Linked DNA regions of Homo sapiens: region 1 is linked to region 2. Evidence: fine-mapped expression QTL. A gene starts in region 2. The other region holds a variant in brackets. All regions are shown on one strand. Distances are between the middles of the regions.

Region 1 (8,374 bases), 41 kb after region 2:
ATCAGGACTCTTTCACTCTTGACTGTGGCATTTTAAAATTATACAGCTTTATGCTACAAAGTGTCTCATGTCAGCAAGTTAATTGTAAGCCCCTCAGGGAAAGAACTATTTTTCTAATTGTATAATTTCCCCCTTTTTCTTCATTGTGTTTAGTTAGGGGACCCCAAAGAAGCTTAGTGAGGCTTAGTATATGGTAGATGTTCAGTGATTATTTGTTGACTGTTGGACTGAGTGACTGAGTGACTGACTGACTGACTGAATAGTGTGGTGTGTACTTCCTAGAGTAATTCTCTGGGATATAATGGTATTACATCTGTTTTTTACAATGAATAGTGTTGACACTTATTTTTTTAGTGTGCTTATCAAGTTTTATCCTTACATAATCTCTTTGAGAGGAGGTAAATCATATTGGCCTCTGGGGAGGTAATCTTTTAACACGAGATTGTAATTTGCTCAGGGTCACACAGTTAAGAGACACCATAAGCTTAGCTCTAGACATTAATTTTGCCCTTTGCCATTCCAAATCAGGTTTAACTTTTTTGTGAACAAGATTTTGCCACAGTATCGTGATGCAGTCATGTCTCACACGCTCATCTATATCCCCTCCTACTTTGACTTCGTGCGTCTTCGAAATTACTTCAAGAAGGAGGAATTGAATTTTACCCACATCTGCGAGTACACGCAGAAGTCTGGTGTCTCCAGGGCCAGACACTTCTTCCTTCAAGGAGAGAAACAGTTTCTACTTTTCACAGAGCGCTTCCATTTCTACAAAAGGTAAAGTGGTGCCAGGTTTCAAGCCTCCTCTCTGAAGGGGAGGTGCAGGACAAATCATGGCCTGCTCTGAATGCATGGCAGGCTTCGTGGTGTTGAGATCATCCCTCACTCTCGCACTCTTACAAAGTAGCCAGAGAGTTTTTGGTTTGGACAGACTCTTCTTGGTTGGTTAGTTGGTTTTCTCCCAAAATGGGCATTGCTGAAGAAGGATGTAGAAACCAAAGCATACCCTGTCTATAGACCTGGCATGTAGCTGTGGTTATACACTGCAAGAAGGACATTACAGGACAACTCAAATGAATACAAGGAAGGGGAGGGACCTTCCCTGTATTCACTTGAGTTGTCCCTGTCTAGACTTTTTCCCTCTGTTTGCCCTCAGTGCACAGACAAAAGCATTGAGAACTGTGTTTTCTGGGGAGATGGAGGCTGAGTACAGTGTCAGTTTCCAGACAGTTGCGGTGTTCCTGAGGTATGCACAGATACTCCCTACCAAGGAGAACTAGGACCGTGGGCTCCTTGACATTTGCAGGAGGTAAAAGGGTAAGGGCTTCAAGTTGAATGTTGAAGGGTTTCAGCGTTTGCTTAGATTTCCTACCAGGTGACTTTGACAAAATAAGTTGATTGGTCTTCATGTTATTTTTTTAAAAACTCAGGCCAGGTGCAGTGGCTCACACCTGTAATCCCAGCACTTTGGGAGGCCAAGGCAGGCGAATCACCTGTGGTCAGGAGTTCAAGACCATCCCGGCTAACATGGTGAAACCCCGTTTCTACTAAAAATATAAAAAATTAGTTGAGCGTGGTGGTGTGTGCCTATAATCCCAGCTACTCGGGAGGCTGAGGCAGGAGAATAGCTTGAACCCGGGAGGCAGAGGTTGCAGTTAGCTGAGATCGTGCCATTGCACTCCAGCTTGGGCAACAAGAGCGAAACTCCATCTCAAAAAAAAAAAAAAAAAAAAAAACCAACTCTAATTAGAGGGTTAGTAATACTGAGCCTTCTATTACTGTTTGGGATAGTGGCGGCCCTTCTGGCCCTAGAGCTCATGTATTTTATTGTTTTGCTAAGTCTCTCTCTGTTGATAAATAGAAAAAGCTTTTTTATTTTTTAGATTTTTATTTTCAATTTTCATGGTTGCATAATATGTAAAAGGCTTTTTTTAACCCTTGCCTGTAGAGTTATGTAAATTACATTCTGTTACCTCATCCTGATTTCACAATAATGTCCAGTGGATTTAAGTTCTGACTTTACTGTTTTATTAACTCACAATGGGTGCATTTTCTCAGAGAATCCTAAACAGATACGCCAGAAATCTCCCAAGCTTTGGAGCACATTAGATGATGCACTTTGGCATTGCATTACCTTTTAGTTTATGCTAAAACGATTAGGATGGTGCTCCCCAGATAACGTCCTTGTTCCCAGGATGGGGAGGGAGGCGTCCCAGCAGCTTGCCTAGGCATAGCAAAGCTGGCATGGCATGACCTCTTAGAGAGTTGAGGATTGATTAAATTTGTGTTTCCCAGGCTCCATTCTTGGCTACCCAGAGAAGGCTGCTTGGCCAAAGAGTGTTAATGAATGCCTGCTTGTTGCCCTCATTATTTGCTCTGTTCCAGTAAGTTGTCGTTTCCATTCATGTTGGAAAGTATTTGGGGAAGTTGCACTCATCAGGTCTTAAAAGCTCTTAGCTTTCTATCATCTTGACAAATGAAAGCAAGCCCTTTAAGTGAAGTGGATGGATTGGAAAACTTCCCAGTGTGATTGTCTATGGCAACTGTGAATTAAGCTGGGATGGGAATTAAGCTCTTTAATATCTCAGCAGCTTTTCAAGGACAGGGCATGGAGCCCTTTGTAAGCAGGACAGTCTCCTGTATTACACTGTCTATTTACCAAGCCATGTTGCCCTCAAAGTCACGATAAGGACAAATCTCAGCATATGCCATTTGCTTTATGCCCTGGGCCAGGTTAATTGGTGTTTCTTTTGTAGAAGATGAATGAAAATAATGTGCTTTAGAGTTCTGCAACAGCTAATTATCTCAAGGTTTCCAGCTATAGAATTTTTTGCTCGAGAGATCACCAAGGTGATGATGGATGTTTTGGTGTGCAGTGCCTTTGTGATTTTTTTTTTTTTAATTTGACCTTAGAATAAGTACTTTTTTTTTCTTTTTCTTTTTCTTTTTTTTTTTTTAAGACAGTCTCACTTTGTTGCTCAGGCTGGAGTGCAGTGGTGTGATCTCGGCCCGCTGCAGCGTCTGCCTCTTGGGTTCAAGCAATTCTCGTGACTCAGCCTCCTGAGTAGCTGGGATTACAGAATTGCATCACCACGCCTGGCTGATTTTTGTATTTTTAGTAGACGAGGTTTTGCCATGTTGGCCAGGCTGGTCTTGAACTCCTGGCCTCATGTGATCTGCGCACTTCAGCCTCCCAAGAAGTGTTGGGGTTACAGGCATGAGCCACCGTGCCCGGCCAGAAAATGTACATGTATTTTATATTGTAGTATCTGACTCTGTTTTTATATTCTCTATGACAGCTGGCAATGTTAGGAAGATTAGAATTCATTTTTGAGTTAGCAAAAATTTTTTAACCTGAAGATTTGTTTTATGTGGGGAAGATTAAACTAGCAGAATCTTAGAATTGGATGAACATTTGGTCATGATTGCCCTCCCAGTGATGGGTCACAGCTCTTTTCCAGTGCGTTATCAGTGGGTTTCCACAGCAGGGAGGATCTCAACCAGGAGGCAAGTCAGAAACTGGAGGTGGGATTTGTGGAGTTTGGAAAGGCTGCTGGGAATTTCTGATTACTCCCTTCCCCTACAGGAGAATCCCAGTTCTAGAAGTAGTAGACTTGGTCTTTATGGACCGTAGGAAGGAGCCAGTCTTTCAAGTTCATTGTGGTTGCCTCATTTGTCTTTAACAGTGGCTCGTGAAATAGACATGTGGAAGGTACTGTAAGGGTGATTAGGCTGTGTTTGTAGGAGTCACTGAAAACAAAGCATATATAAGGGAGGAGGAAGGCAGGGT[A/T]AGGGGTGCTCAAGCTATGGAGACTTGCCACTAACTGCCCCTTGGAAGAGGCCCTGGCCATGTTCTCTGTTGCCAGGAGATACTCAGTCTCTATTGTGGTTGCATTGGGACTGAGACAGATTTTCATGTGTGTGTGTTTAATATAACACTTAACAGTTTTATTGTTTTGTTTTTCCTGATTGTGAGGGTATTTCACAGTTATTGTAGAGATATTGGAAATTTTAGGTTAAAAATCTCACTGCCCTGATATAAATACTCTTTTTGGTAATTTTTTTCCATCTTTTTTATGTGAAAAATGTGTGCACATGCACACGTGCACACACACACGTGTTTTTTTAAAAAACAATACTAAAATTAGGATCTTTTTTTGTTTTAAGGATTTTTTTTTCCTTTGTCTTAGATGTTTTATGTGCTCATTTAAAAAAATTCAAAGACTAACATTTTGGCCTGTATATTTGTATATTGTGGATTTTTGTGTATATTTTTAAGTTACTATATATAGCTCTACGACATCCTCTCTTCCCCCAGGTTTTTATTTGAAAAGATTTCATTGTGAAAGAAAATTGTTAAGAGACTAACAATAAACATCTGTTTATTTATAAATGCTTTTACCCCAAATTCCACCAGCTGTTCTCATTTTATCACATTTGCACATACCCATCTTCTCTCTATCCCCACTCACATCTCTTATTTTTTCTTCCTGAACCATTTGAAAGTAAAGTAGCGTGAGTCTTCATTGACACTTCACCCCTAAATATTTTAGCATGTAGCTCCTAAAAACAAAAACATTCTTTTATCTAACCATAGCACCATTATCATGCTACCTGATGTTACTACAGTAATATCATCTGATATCTAGTCTATATTCAGATTTTGCTAGTTGTCACCAAAATGACCATTATAGCTCTTTCCCCTCCGGCCAAAAAGGATTCAGTAAGGATCATATATAGCATTTGGTTAACTTACTGCTTTTGTTTCTTTAATCTAGTTTAGTTCTCAATTGGGGAACAATTTTGCTCCCTCAGGGACATTTGGCAATATCTGGAGACATTTTTGGTTATCACAACTGGAGGATTATTCTGGTGGTTCCAGTGGGTTGAGACCAGTGATGCTGTGAAACACCTTCGTTCACAGGACAGCCCCCAACCACAAAGAATTATCTGTCTCAAAATGTCAGCAGTGTTAACACTGAGAAACCCTCATCCAGAATAACTCTCTTGCTTTTTTACTTTTTCATGACATCGACATCTTTTTGAAGAGTCCAATCTGGTTTCCTGCAGTATGTCTCACAGTCTGGATTTATCTAATTGTTCCCTTGTTATTTAGATCAGTGGTTCTCAAACTTTGCCGTACGTTAGAATAGAAGCTTTTAAAAATCCAAATGCCCAGGTCACATCCCAGTACCAATTAAATCGCAGTGTCTGGGATGGGGACCAAACCTAAGTATTAATAAAAAAAATAAAAAAACAACCAGCTAGGTGATTTCAATGTGCAGCAGTTTGGGGATGACTGATTTAGAATAAATATCTTTTGATAAGAATTCTACTTAGGGAATATTACGTACTTTCTACCTCATCTCATCAGAAGGCACGTAATGTCACTTTGTCTCATTCTTGGTGATGCCAAATCACTAAAATCACTTAGTGTGTGTATGTAATTAATAAGTAACGTGTGAGGTAAACATCACATTGTTTTTAATGGCTACATAGTATTACATTGGTTAATTAAGCTAGCTTCCTTTTAGTGGGCATATAGGGGTTTTTTTTCTGTTTTCTGCTGTTGTATATAATAATACGCAAAACATCCATATGCATATGTTTTGATGAAATACTTACCTAGTTATTTTCTTGGGATAGATTTTGAAAGGAAAACTCGTTAGCACAGAGGCTGTACACAGTTAAAAATGTGTCATGCGTTGCCACTTATTTGCTCCTTTGCATCTTTTCCATATCTTCTCCTGAATTCATAGACAAAGTAATTTATGCTCCATTCACCTATTTCTCCAAAGCTCCATAGACTGAATTATTGCTACTGATGTGATAGTCAAAATGATACCTCATTGTTTGGATGTCTTTTCTTGCTTTTTTGTGTCTTCTATAACTTTCAATGGAATGTAGAGGCTGAAGTAAATAATACTTATGTCCGGCCGCACCCCTTCCGTAGGCCACTGGTGTGGGTGCTATCAATCTAGTCAGGATTTGATTGTTACTGTAGATACCTTCCCAACACCACAGACCTCAAATTCCTCCAGCAGACAGTGGGCTTGGTGTAGGGTCTCGGGTGCTGGAGGGTTTTTCTCAGTGTCCTGATTGCTCAGCTGTCACTGAGGCCTTGACACGTGTGCCAGAGGAGGGTCTCACTCCACACTCAGACCCCTCCTCACAGGAGGCCTCTTGTTTCTCCTTGCAAGGCATGAAGTCGGGGGGAGGGGGTTCTCCTGGTCCAGCTCAATTTTTGGCAGGCCCTTTTTATTCCAAGCTTTGGGGGTGAGGTTTTCTCAGGGTTCCTGCCCCGCTACCTCCGTGGCAGCCAGACTCCACCTTTTATCTGTGAGGGATCTTTGTGGTGAAGTGTATACAGCTTCTTCCCTAATCGAACTCTGCTTGTATCAGTGCAGGAACTTGGGCTGAACAGGTTTCTTACCCCTTCCTCTGGGGCAGAATGCTTTTTACTGGGTACAAGTCTTGTGTGGGGGACAAATGGAAGGGTGGGGGTTTACTGCCCTTCCCTTAAGGGCAGACAACTTTTGCTTCTACTCACCCTCCCCCTCAAGTGGTTTGCCTTTGCCTGCCTGCGATTAGGGGTGGGGGACAGGGTGGCTCCTTTCTTCTCCCCCGTGTGCTTCACGTTTTTACCATGGGTTTCACGATAATGGGCCTGGGAAGTAGGTGGGCTTTCATGTCCCTACCACCAGTGGGGTCTCCCTCGGGTCTTCTGCTTTCTCCAGGGCTCCCAGTGCAGGCCTCTGGAACAAGCTCATGAGTGGATGTGAACTAAAGGAGCATCCAGGGATCCCTGGGGTCCTGAAGTCAGGCAAGCCTATTCTTGCCCTTTAAGAATGTGTTAGAAGTGTATCTATTTTCTTACTACCCACTTTTTTGGCAGAGGCCATCTTTCTCCTGTGCTCTGCCTAAGGTGCAGTAGTTCCTGTGTCCCGTTTTTCCTCAGAAGGGCTACTCTTTGGAACTCAGTCCATGGTGAGCTGAAGCTGGCTCACACTGGCTCATGAGACCTGGCTGCACATCTCTGGGTCAGCAGCATGACATTGGTAGCTTGAAACTGACAAATCCTTCAAATTAGCACCCTCCCTTTCTCCCACTGAGGACCAATTATTAAACATACACCAGCTCACCACCTAATTCAGGTTACCTGATTGCTTCATGATGGTAGCTCTTTGGGCTCAAGAAAAGGAACATTTTTGTATAATAGATTATCTGACTTTTTCTTATTGGTATAGGAGCAATATTCTCGAGTTTTATACATTCTAAGCAGAAGTAGAACTCAGTGTTGTTTTTGTTTTGAGAACTAGTGAGGTAGAACAGTTTATTCAAGTTCATTAGCCGTTAGAATTCCTTCTTTATGGAAAGGATGTTGAAAGGTGAACCACATAATAGATCACAGTCATGGTTTGGGAAAGGAAGGTCTCCAGAGAGATCAGGATGAGCTGTGAGGGAAAAAGACAAGGAAAACTTACCTTCTGTGAAAGAAATAAAATCCCCAAGGGAGTCTAACGTCTTCAGTGTATGAGAGAAACTTAACAGGAAAAATCAGAAGCTTGTCAACATATAAAATCTTTTGTTATGGAATCCCACAGGGGAACGGTTGACGTCAGCCTGACTGAACCATACTGCAAGTCAGTCCCTTGGGTGTACACCACCCCCCACCACAGGGCGGCACTGTGCAGCTGGGAAAGAGATGGAAATGCATACGCTGTTGAAACTAATTGCTTTCTCATGATGCCTAGTGGGTCCTTGGGCAGGGTTTTGTAAATGGATGAACTTGGGACGTCTGCCATGGAGTTAACATGTATCCAGAGTGGCAAGAAAAGACTAATGGGAGTGTATTTACAATCTGTACAACTTATTTTATGTACTGGGTCTGACCTTGTCTCCATTCTTTTTTGCCTGATTATAATAAGGCTAATGTTCCATTTTAAGTGCCTGCTTTTTAAGTTTTCTGTGACAGATTTTTAAATCCTGGTCTACTATTCTTTCCCATGATACCTCAGCCTACCCAGTGTAGGATCAAGAAATGTGTATTTATTTTATCATTTTCTTAAGCCAAATATTAGGAATTCGAATATGTTGTCATAAAAAGAATTCAAATATGTTGCCACCTCAAGTTAGAATAACTTTTGTTCTGTTACTTGTGCCACTGTTTTTCTCCATTAGCAGGAAGCAACAAGCATGAACTATGCCTCTGTACAACTCCTAGGTAGTTTTTCTAGAACTTGTTTCTCAAGTTGACATAGCTCTTTCTTTCCAATTCTGACAGGTATACAATAAAAGGCATCAGGAACCTGATTTTCTATGAACTGCCGACATATCCACACTTTTACAGTGAAATCTGTAATATGCTGAGAGCCAC
Region 2 (8,334 bases):
AGGAGGGGTCTCAGCTGGCTATCCATACAACAATCCAGTGTCTGGGAGAAGGCTTGGGAACACTGGCGACAAAGGCTGAGAACACGTCTCCACTACTGAGTCTGGTAAAGCTCAGAAGCCCTAGAATAACCAAATACTAAAGTACTAAGAGTACTTAGAGTACTAAAAGCAGTCATGAGACAAGCTTTGCATGGCTAGGACAGCCTCCTCCCTTGGGTCTGTTTATCTCCCAGTGAAGGCTGGAGTGAACCAATTGGTTGCAGGAGCCAGCATGGGTAAAGTCTGCAATTGATTCTTGTAAAAATACATGGGCATAGCAGATAACATTCAAGAGCAGCTGGCACTCACAGCAGAAAACAAAAGCCTTCCCAGATTGGGTGACTGATAAAAAAACAGTCACTGGAGAATTGTTTGTCTGAGATGTTGTGTTTGGATTTTTTGGTGTTCTTATTTTGTTTTTACTTAAGATGAGAATGAGATGCCTGGAAAAAGAACACTCATTCAACAAATATTTGTTCATCAGCTACTGTGTGCCAAGCACGGTGTTAGTTACTAAACACTGACGCTCCATGTTCCTTCTTGAGAAACTCCACACTGGAACTTCTCAAGCCCCACAATGGCCTGAGAAGGAGGGGAAGATAAATAGGTCACCTTCATACCCAGAAAGATCCCTACCTGGACCACAGTTCTGAAACCAAACAACCTTACAGCAAAGCAGCTAAATATGGGAATAAACTGTGCCAGGTGGGAAAGAAAAGAGGTTAAAAGGGTCAGCTGAAGGCTCCTACTCAGAAGAGCTTAGCTGACGGGGTGGCCCATAACACCACTTCTCTCCCCAGCCAGACTCCCAACAAATGTGAAAAACCCAAACCCAACTCAGCGTCTGGCACTTTAAGAGCAAGGCAAGACCTGCTCTCACCTGAGCTTTCTGACCCAATTACCAAGTCCTGCAACTGAAACCTTCCCCCTGGGAGCATAGTGGGTAGGTCAGGTTGGCACGCAGTGTTCAAGTACCCCCATGTAGTTGGCCTTGAATTACGGTGTTTTGTAGGGCAGCATGTGAAACCATCAAACCATGGAGTGCATTATAAGCCTTATAAGGAGGAGGGGATGCATATTCTCTCAACGGCTAGTTCTACCTTCTGCTCCCCAGTCCTATCACTACTGAAAGGGGGATGGAGCAAGAGAAGGAAAAAGAGGATAGGGAAATAGGCACCAAACCAGTCAATCTAGTAAAGAGCTTTTGAGAATTTCCATTGCAATACTGGTAAGTGCTGTGTTTGGGCCTGTCAGACATTAAAATCCAACTCTTGACTGATAGTGGACTGGAAGAAAAGTCCAAAAGGACTTATTGTAGTTGATCCAAATCCCACCATGCAAAAATTAAGGCAATCAGGCCAAGACCAGGAGCTGCACCTGATGATGGGAAAGGAGAAGCAGCCACCCACAGAAATCAGTGATTAAGATCTAGAGCCCTGGGTTCTCAGTGTTCTCCTAAGATGGGACTACACAAGAGCAGCCTTGCCTCAGCCCCATGGAAGGAGCCCCAGCCTGCCCTCCTCCAAGCCCATGCCCTGCCTCTCTCACTGTAAACCCTCTCCACCTTCTGAAAGTCAGCCAAGATCTCCCCCACTCACCACCCAGTAACTACAAGTCTAAAAACAGGCAGAGATGGAACAATTGAAAACCCAAATGGCCAAGACAGAAACATTCATTACGTCACAACCACAGGCTGCAATATTAAGTAGCCATTAACAACAGGTGTCAGAATTTGTATTATACTCAAGGAAATGTTTACAATATGAAGTTGTGGGGGCAGGGGGAAACAGCATACAACTTGACTGTGTAGCACTATCTCCATCTTGTAACACAGCATATACTTGCATACATGTGCACATACACACAGAACTGAAAAAAGGAAATAAATACAACAATGCAACAAAATATTTGTAATGGTTATCTAGTGATGCAACTATGGGTGCTTTTTACATTCTCCCATATACATTATATATGATTCATATTTTCCTACAATGATATGTTTCAATTTATAATTTAAAAAACTACAAGTAATTTTTTCTTAACCTCAGGACAATAAGACATTTCTTATGAAGGATGGTAACAACAATCCTTTGTATCTGTGTAGGCTTTACAATTTTTACATGAACCTTTACCTAACATGTCTGATTTCATCCTCATAAACCTGAATGTGATATTACTATCCCCATTTTACATCTGGGCTGAGGTGCTTTATTTCCTAAGTCACAGTGTTCTGTACCAAACCCTGCCACTGCACCTTGTCTTCCATGTCCCTCTCATCTTCTGCGCACCAAGAAAGTAAACTAAAAACATCAACAAAGATCCCAGCAGCATAGAGGGCCAATAAAGTGATTGAGGTGGAGACTGCATAACATCCACTCTCAAACACACCTAAATCAGAGTTCTCTTTCTAAACACTCTTGCCACCCAAATCCCAACGCCTGAAGAACCACCTTAGCCTAGTTGAACTCATCTTGGTATCTCTAGCTGCCATCACAGCAAAATGTAAGGCCTGTGTCTCTAACAGGTACTTAAACAGCCAAAGGACAATGATGCTAACCTATCTATTCCCCTCACAGTGAGCATAGAGGAGGGACACTTTCAGCCTCCTCCGAGCATAACTGTCCTCTCCCATACCCCTATTCTAGGGAGCAGGTCCTCCATAAACACCCTCATTGCCACCTCCATAGCTCCTCCCCAGACTAGTTTCCAGGGGCACTGCCACACAAAAGCCGAGATTTGGCCGTCAGTGGTTTTGCTCAGGTTAAAACACACGCCATTTCTCGCAGACAATTCTTAGCAGTCCCAGCTCTTCCCTTTCTCCTGAAAGAAATGAAATGCCATCGTCTAAGTTCCGTTCCTCAGGCTTCCCTGTTTAGCCCTGCTTAGGGGTAAACTGCAGGCCTCTAGTCAAAATGCCCACACCCTTCCCTTCTGCTGGATGGAAGCTGGGGGATGGCGAATGGGAGTTACAAGGTATTGAGTGCCACTGTCATACATCATACACACGTCTCATCCTAAACCACACTCCTGGGTCAACACCAGCTTTCACCAATCCCACCCAAGCGCCTTCCTCTCTCTATCCATCTCTTTTCCCTGACTTCCACTCTTGACATCCACCAAGAGAACAGGTTGGAACAGGATGACCCCTTTACCACAAAGCAGGCTCCCTGTAAAGAGTGACACCTCAGGCCTCCTTTCCAAGTCAGGCCTGGGAGACTTTCCCCATTCTCCACACCACCCTCCAGCCCCTTCGGGCAAAGAGGGCCCACCCCCAGAGCAACCACACCCCAGCGCCACCCTCCCCAGCACCTAGCTCCGCTCCTTGGAAATCCAAGGTTGTCTCCCAGGCCCAGGGCGAAGGGCCTAACTGTGCCAAACAGACTCAGGGAGGGAAGACAAACCGCCAATGCTCCAAAGCTCCTGGCCACCCTCACTCCAGTTTCCCAAAACGCCCACTAGGATCAAGGACCTGCGGACCTGGGAAGTCCCCTCTCTGGGACACAGGGGCCAGCCGCAAGTTGGTAAGACTGAAGGGGGCGCGGTGCTTTAGCTCTACCGGATAGTGGGGTTGTTGACGGCCGAGAGCAGTGCCCTCCGCTTCGGCGGTGGGGGTAGGGAGAGTAGACACAAGTGTAGATTCGAGAGGGGCCTAGCGCTACAGAACTGAGGCCGCCCCAAAGCTATCTGGAAAAGGGCGACAGGCACCCAGCCCCAGTGGGTACCCACCCCAAACACACAGATGCCCCCAAGCAAGTTCTCTCACCCCCTACAAACTCCGGGGATGGGTCCTACCCCACCCACGGGGGAGCCTCTCCTCCCTCAAGCTGGTCCCCAGAAGTTGGCGTACCCACCTTTGCTCAATCTGTCCACCAGAAGCGGACGTCCCTCCGAACCAAGTCCGCAGCGAAGATCACCCGTCGCTACCACGCTCCTCGACGTCTTAGCCAAGGGGCGCCTGGCTCTACCCAAGTAGGGACTGCAGGTTCCTCTCCCCGTCCCGCACCAGCCCTTACCTGCCCAGCCCAGGTGCGCCGAGCTCACGTCAGCGCCTCGCCCCAGGACGCCGCAGCCTTCGCATCCGCCCGGCCACGCCTCCCAGGTGTGGCCACGCCCCCCGGCGTTCGGGATTGGCGAGTTGCAAGAAATATGACACTCCGCGTTTCTGGGCTGCCCGGCCCAGCGGCGTCCGTCCAGCGTCCCACCCTACTCCTCCGCTTCTAACTCCGGCTAAGAAAGTCCCAGATTCAGGCCTAGCCTTACGGCTCAGGGCTGGTGGTCCTGGGAACTGGAAGCGACTGGGAGTTCAGATCTAAGTCGAGAGGGTGCCTCCCTCCTTCACGGCCCATAATTACCCTGCAGTATGCAGACAGTTAAGCACAAATAAGGGTTTTGAGATTCTGGGTTGGCCCTACTACTCGTGGGCCTGTGTAAGTGGAGTTGCACATGAAGAAGAGAACCAGGACACTTGGTCCTGTCTGGGAGAAGCCATAGGCTTTCAGGACTAGAATTCTACCTTTACTCTGCCTCTTACCCGTGTGACCCTGGGTAAGTTACTTAGCTTCTTGGCTTCTTGGTTTCAGTTTCCTCATCTCTTCAATGAGAATAATAATTCCTTCCTTCTTTTTTGTTGTTGTTTGCTTTTTTCTCTTTCTTTTTTCTTCCTTTTTTTTTTTTTTTTTTTTTGGAGATGGGGTCTTGCTATTAAGTTACACAGTCTGGTCTGCAACACCTGGGCTCAAGGGATCCGCCTCAGCCTCGCAAAGTGCTGGGATTACAGGCACTGGCACCCAGTTCAATTCCTTTTTTTTTTTTTTTTTTTTTTTTTAGGCAGGGTCTGGCTCTGTCATCCAGGCTAGAATGCAGTGGCACAATCATAGCTCAACCTCCTGGGCTCAAGCAATTATCCCACCTCACCCTCCCAAGTAACTGGAAATATAGGCATGGGTCACCATGCCCGGCTAATTTTTTTTTTTTTTTTTTAGAGACAGGGTCTGACTATGTTGCCCAGACTGGAGTTCCTGCTTCCTCTGATCACTATCGTGTAATGAGTAAAAGCATAGCCTCTGGAGCCAACTATTGGGGTTTAGACCCCAACTCCATCAGTTACTACAGACTTGGGAAAGTTTCTTAAGCTTTTTAGGCCCTGGTGTCTTATCTGTAGAAAGAGGTTAGTAATAGTACCTACCTCAGGGGTATTGTGGGAATTCAATAACTACATGTAAACTGCTTGCAACAATATTTAGCACTTATCAAGTGCTTTATATGTACTTGCAATTATTATTGGCATAAAGATTAAAAATACCATATAGACAGTGCGTCAGAGAACAAGAAGGCATTCCTTGTTATTACCTGAAATTCAAGTCCTGCATGTACCCTAACAGGTGCTTGATGAGATTGCCCTCACCTTCCTCATCTATCTAGAGGACCGGTTTGCAGGAGGCTGTGCAACAGTAAATGAGACTTTTAAAAATCCCCCACCCTCAACCACTGAGCTGTCGTAGGTGAAATGGGGCATGCGCAGGTCACTTAGGTTTTGGTGTTTAAAGTAATGAGTGAGAAACTGTGGAGGAGTGGTACAATGAGTTGAACTGTCACCCACATACAAAAAAATTTGTATTTGTATTTTGAAGTCCTGACCACCCCCACTGCAACCACAGCCAGATGTCAGAATATGACCTTATTGGGAGACAGGATCCTTATGGAGGTAATCAAGTTAAAACGTGGTTATTAGGGTGAGCCTGAATCCAATATGAATGGTGTCCTTATAAAAGGAGGAGATTTGGACACAGAGGCAGATACCCACAGAGGGAAGGTGATATGAAGAGACATAAAGAGAAGACAGCTAGCTGCAACCCAAGGAGAGATACCTGGAATAGAGCTCTTTTTTTTTTTTTTTTTTTCACATCCCTCAGACCCTTGATTTTAGACTTTTAAACTCCAGAACTATGAAACAAAAAATTTCTGTTGTTCAAGCCACCCACTCTGAGGTACATTGTTATGGTAGCCCTAGCATACTCATACAAGTGTGTTGAAGAGCCCCAGATTGATAATAATGTAGGCATGATTCCAAGTCCCAATTTAGCTTTGGAATGTAGCCAGCAAAGGCCTGGGAAGGCAGCAAGGCCCCAAGGCCTGACTCAGCCAGCCTCTGTCTCAACCACTGCCCTGTGGCCACTCTTCCCTTCACTGGGGGAAGGGCAAGCTCATCAGCACAGCTAGCTGTTTACTGCTGATGAGCTCACTAGACAAACAGCATCTTCCATCTGGCCCAGGGCTGGGCTCTGGGGACCAAACAAGCTCCACTGCAGGTGTATGAGAGGGATGAGGGGTAAGGCCATTGGGAGAGTGTCATTTGAGGGGAGTCAAAACCCCAGTGGCATACAAGTATGAGCCCACACACAGGCACTCACTTTTGCACCAGCTGAAATTCCCATGACTAAGGGGATGTCTTAAGGACCTTCTTTAGAAGACATATATTTTGGAATCAGAAAACTCAAGCTGGGAGGGTTCTTCTGGACTATCTAGATCAAGACTAAAACTGACTTAGCCAGTTTTTACCCACACAGTATTTTAAATATCAGGAGGTATCACATAAACATCAAAATTCTCAGCATCTCTTAAAGAGTCAAGTGCCCTGGATGCTCTACCAGCAGTTCTACCTGGCAACAGTTGCCCATTTAGAGGGAGTCTACACGTTACAGCCAATACAAACTCACTCTATTGAGCTCACTAATTTACTTTAATTGCCTGACCCTGTAGGCATCTGATTGCAACTTCTAGTCTAAATTCTCCCTTTTCATAGATGAGAAAACTGCGGCCCAGCGAGGTCAAGTGATTTACTCAAGGTCACATGGCATATTAGCCACAAACCAAGACTAGAACACAAACCCGGGGCTCTATCCACTTGGACCCCTGCTCAGCTCCGCAGCCAAAGTCTATTCTGACCTGTTCTGCACTGGCTGTTAACGATTTAAAAAAAAAAATCGCCAGGTGCAATCGCTCACACCTGTAATCCCAGCACTTTGAGAGGCTGAGGCGGGCAGATCACCTGAGGTCAGGAGCTGGAGACCGGACCGACCAATATGGTCAACTCTACTAAAAATACAAAATTAGCCAGGCTTGGTGGCGCATGCCTGTAATCCCAGCTACTCGGGAGGCTGAGGCAGGAGAATTGCCTGAACCCAGGAAGTGGAGGTTGCGGTGAGCCGAGATTGCACAATTGCACTCCAGCCTGAGCAACAAGAGGGAAACTCCATCTCAAAAAAAAAAAAAAAAAAAATCACCCATGGATCTAGGTACTGTTGATATTGTTGATATTGCCATAAACAAAACCAAGTCCCTACTCTCATGTCACTCAACTGAAGAATTAATGAAAGGGGGTAAAGCAGGTGGAATTAAGGTAGAGATCAGGAGGAACTCCCCGGCTCTGCAGGCAACAAGCCCTGACAATAGGCCACCCTGATGTCTTCTATTCTGATACACGCCTCATCTGCTTGATCTGGGGAATAAGAACATCTTGTGAGTCTTTCCACAAGCTCTTGAGGAATCAGTTCTTCTGTATTCTCAAAAGAGCCTCTTCAGGATTCAGTCATTCCCAACATGCCCTGGGCCTGCAATGCTCCCATCATTTTGCCCTCCATTGATAATCAGGTGCGGCATTGCTGACTCACTAGTGAGTCTGAGTTTCAGGTAGTGGGACGTACATTTCAGCACGGGGGCCCTGATTCACAGCCACAGGGAATGAGGGAATTCCCCTCTCCTGTTCCCAGTCAGCTCTCATTTGGTAGGAAAGAGTTTCTTTTTCCACCCAGAGACTTTAAACTCTACAATATCAGACATGTGACAATAAAACCATGAACCCAAATCCCACTCTCTTCTTGGCAGAGCAGAAAGCGTGGCAACTGGGACTCCTCCCAAAGGCTCCATACAGTGGAGAGTTTAGTGTTACTGGAGTTGGTGATAGCAAAGAAGCTGTGCACCTTTGGTGGAGTTGCTAAAGAGTCAGGTAGGGACATTGCACTAAACAATCCAATTCTGTGCTTTCAAAGGAAATCAGACTCCAACCTTCCTTCTGGAAGGCATTCTGGAGCCCATCAGGTCTACCCTCACTTTTCTCTTGGCCCTGGCTTATCTCTGTCTCCATCCAAGTATCTTAAAGCATCAGGGCCACAGGTGATCCTAACACATTGCCTAAGCCACAGCCTAAACTGAATGCACTCTGGTTGTTGCACTCTATAATGGCCTCCAAATTCTAGAATCACCAAGATGGCAGGAAGCATAAAAGAATCTCACTTT

What was found. PIP is the estimated chance that this variant, and not a neighbour inherited with it, causes the effect.
Region 1: its variant is fine-mapped to the expression of IRF6 in whole blood (INTERVAL, PIP above 0.99).

The regions. Positions count from the first base shown.
Region 1 is chr1:209,842,923-209,851,296 of GRCh38, forward strand. UTP25 (UTP25 small subunit processome component) reads left to right here. Exons shown (of 12, transcript NM_014388.7): 11 at 529-774; 12 at 8,282-8,374. Among named protein-coding and RNA genes, the nearest start is that of UTP25, 19 kb to the left of the region's middle. The variant A/T (reference allele first, on the strand shown) is at 3,788.
Region 2 is chr1:209,802,057-209,810,390 of GRCh38, forward strand. IRF6 (interferon regulatory factor 6) reads right to left here and starts at 4,086. Exons shown (of 9, transcript NM_006147.4): 1 at 3,891-4,086. RefSeq lists a silencer at 4,008-4,351.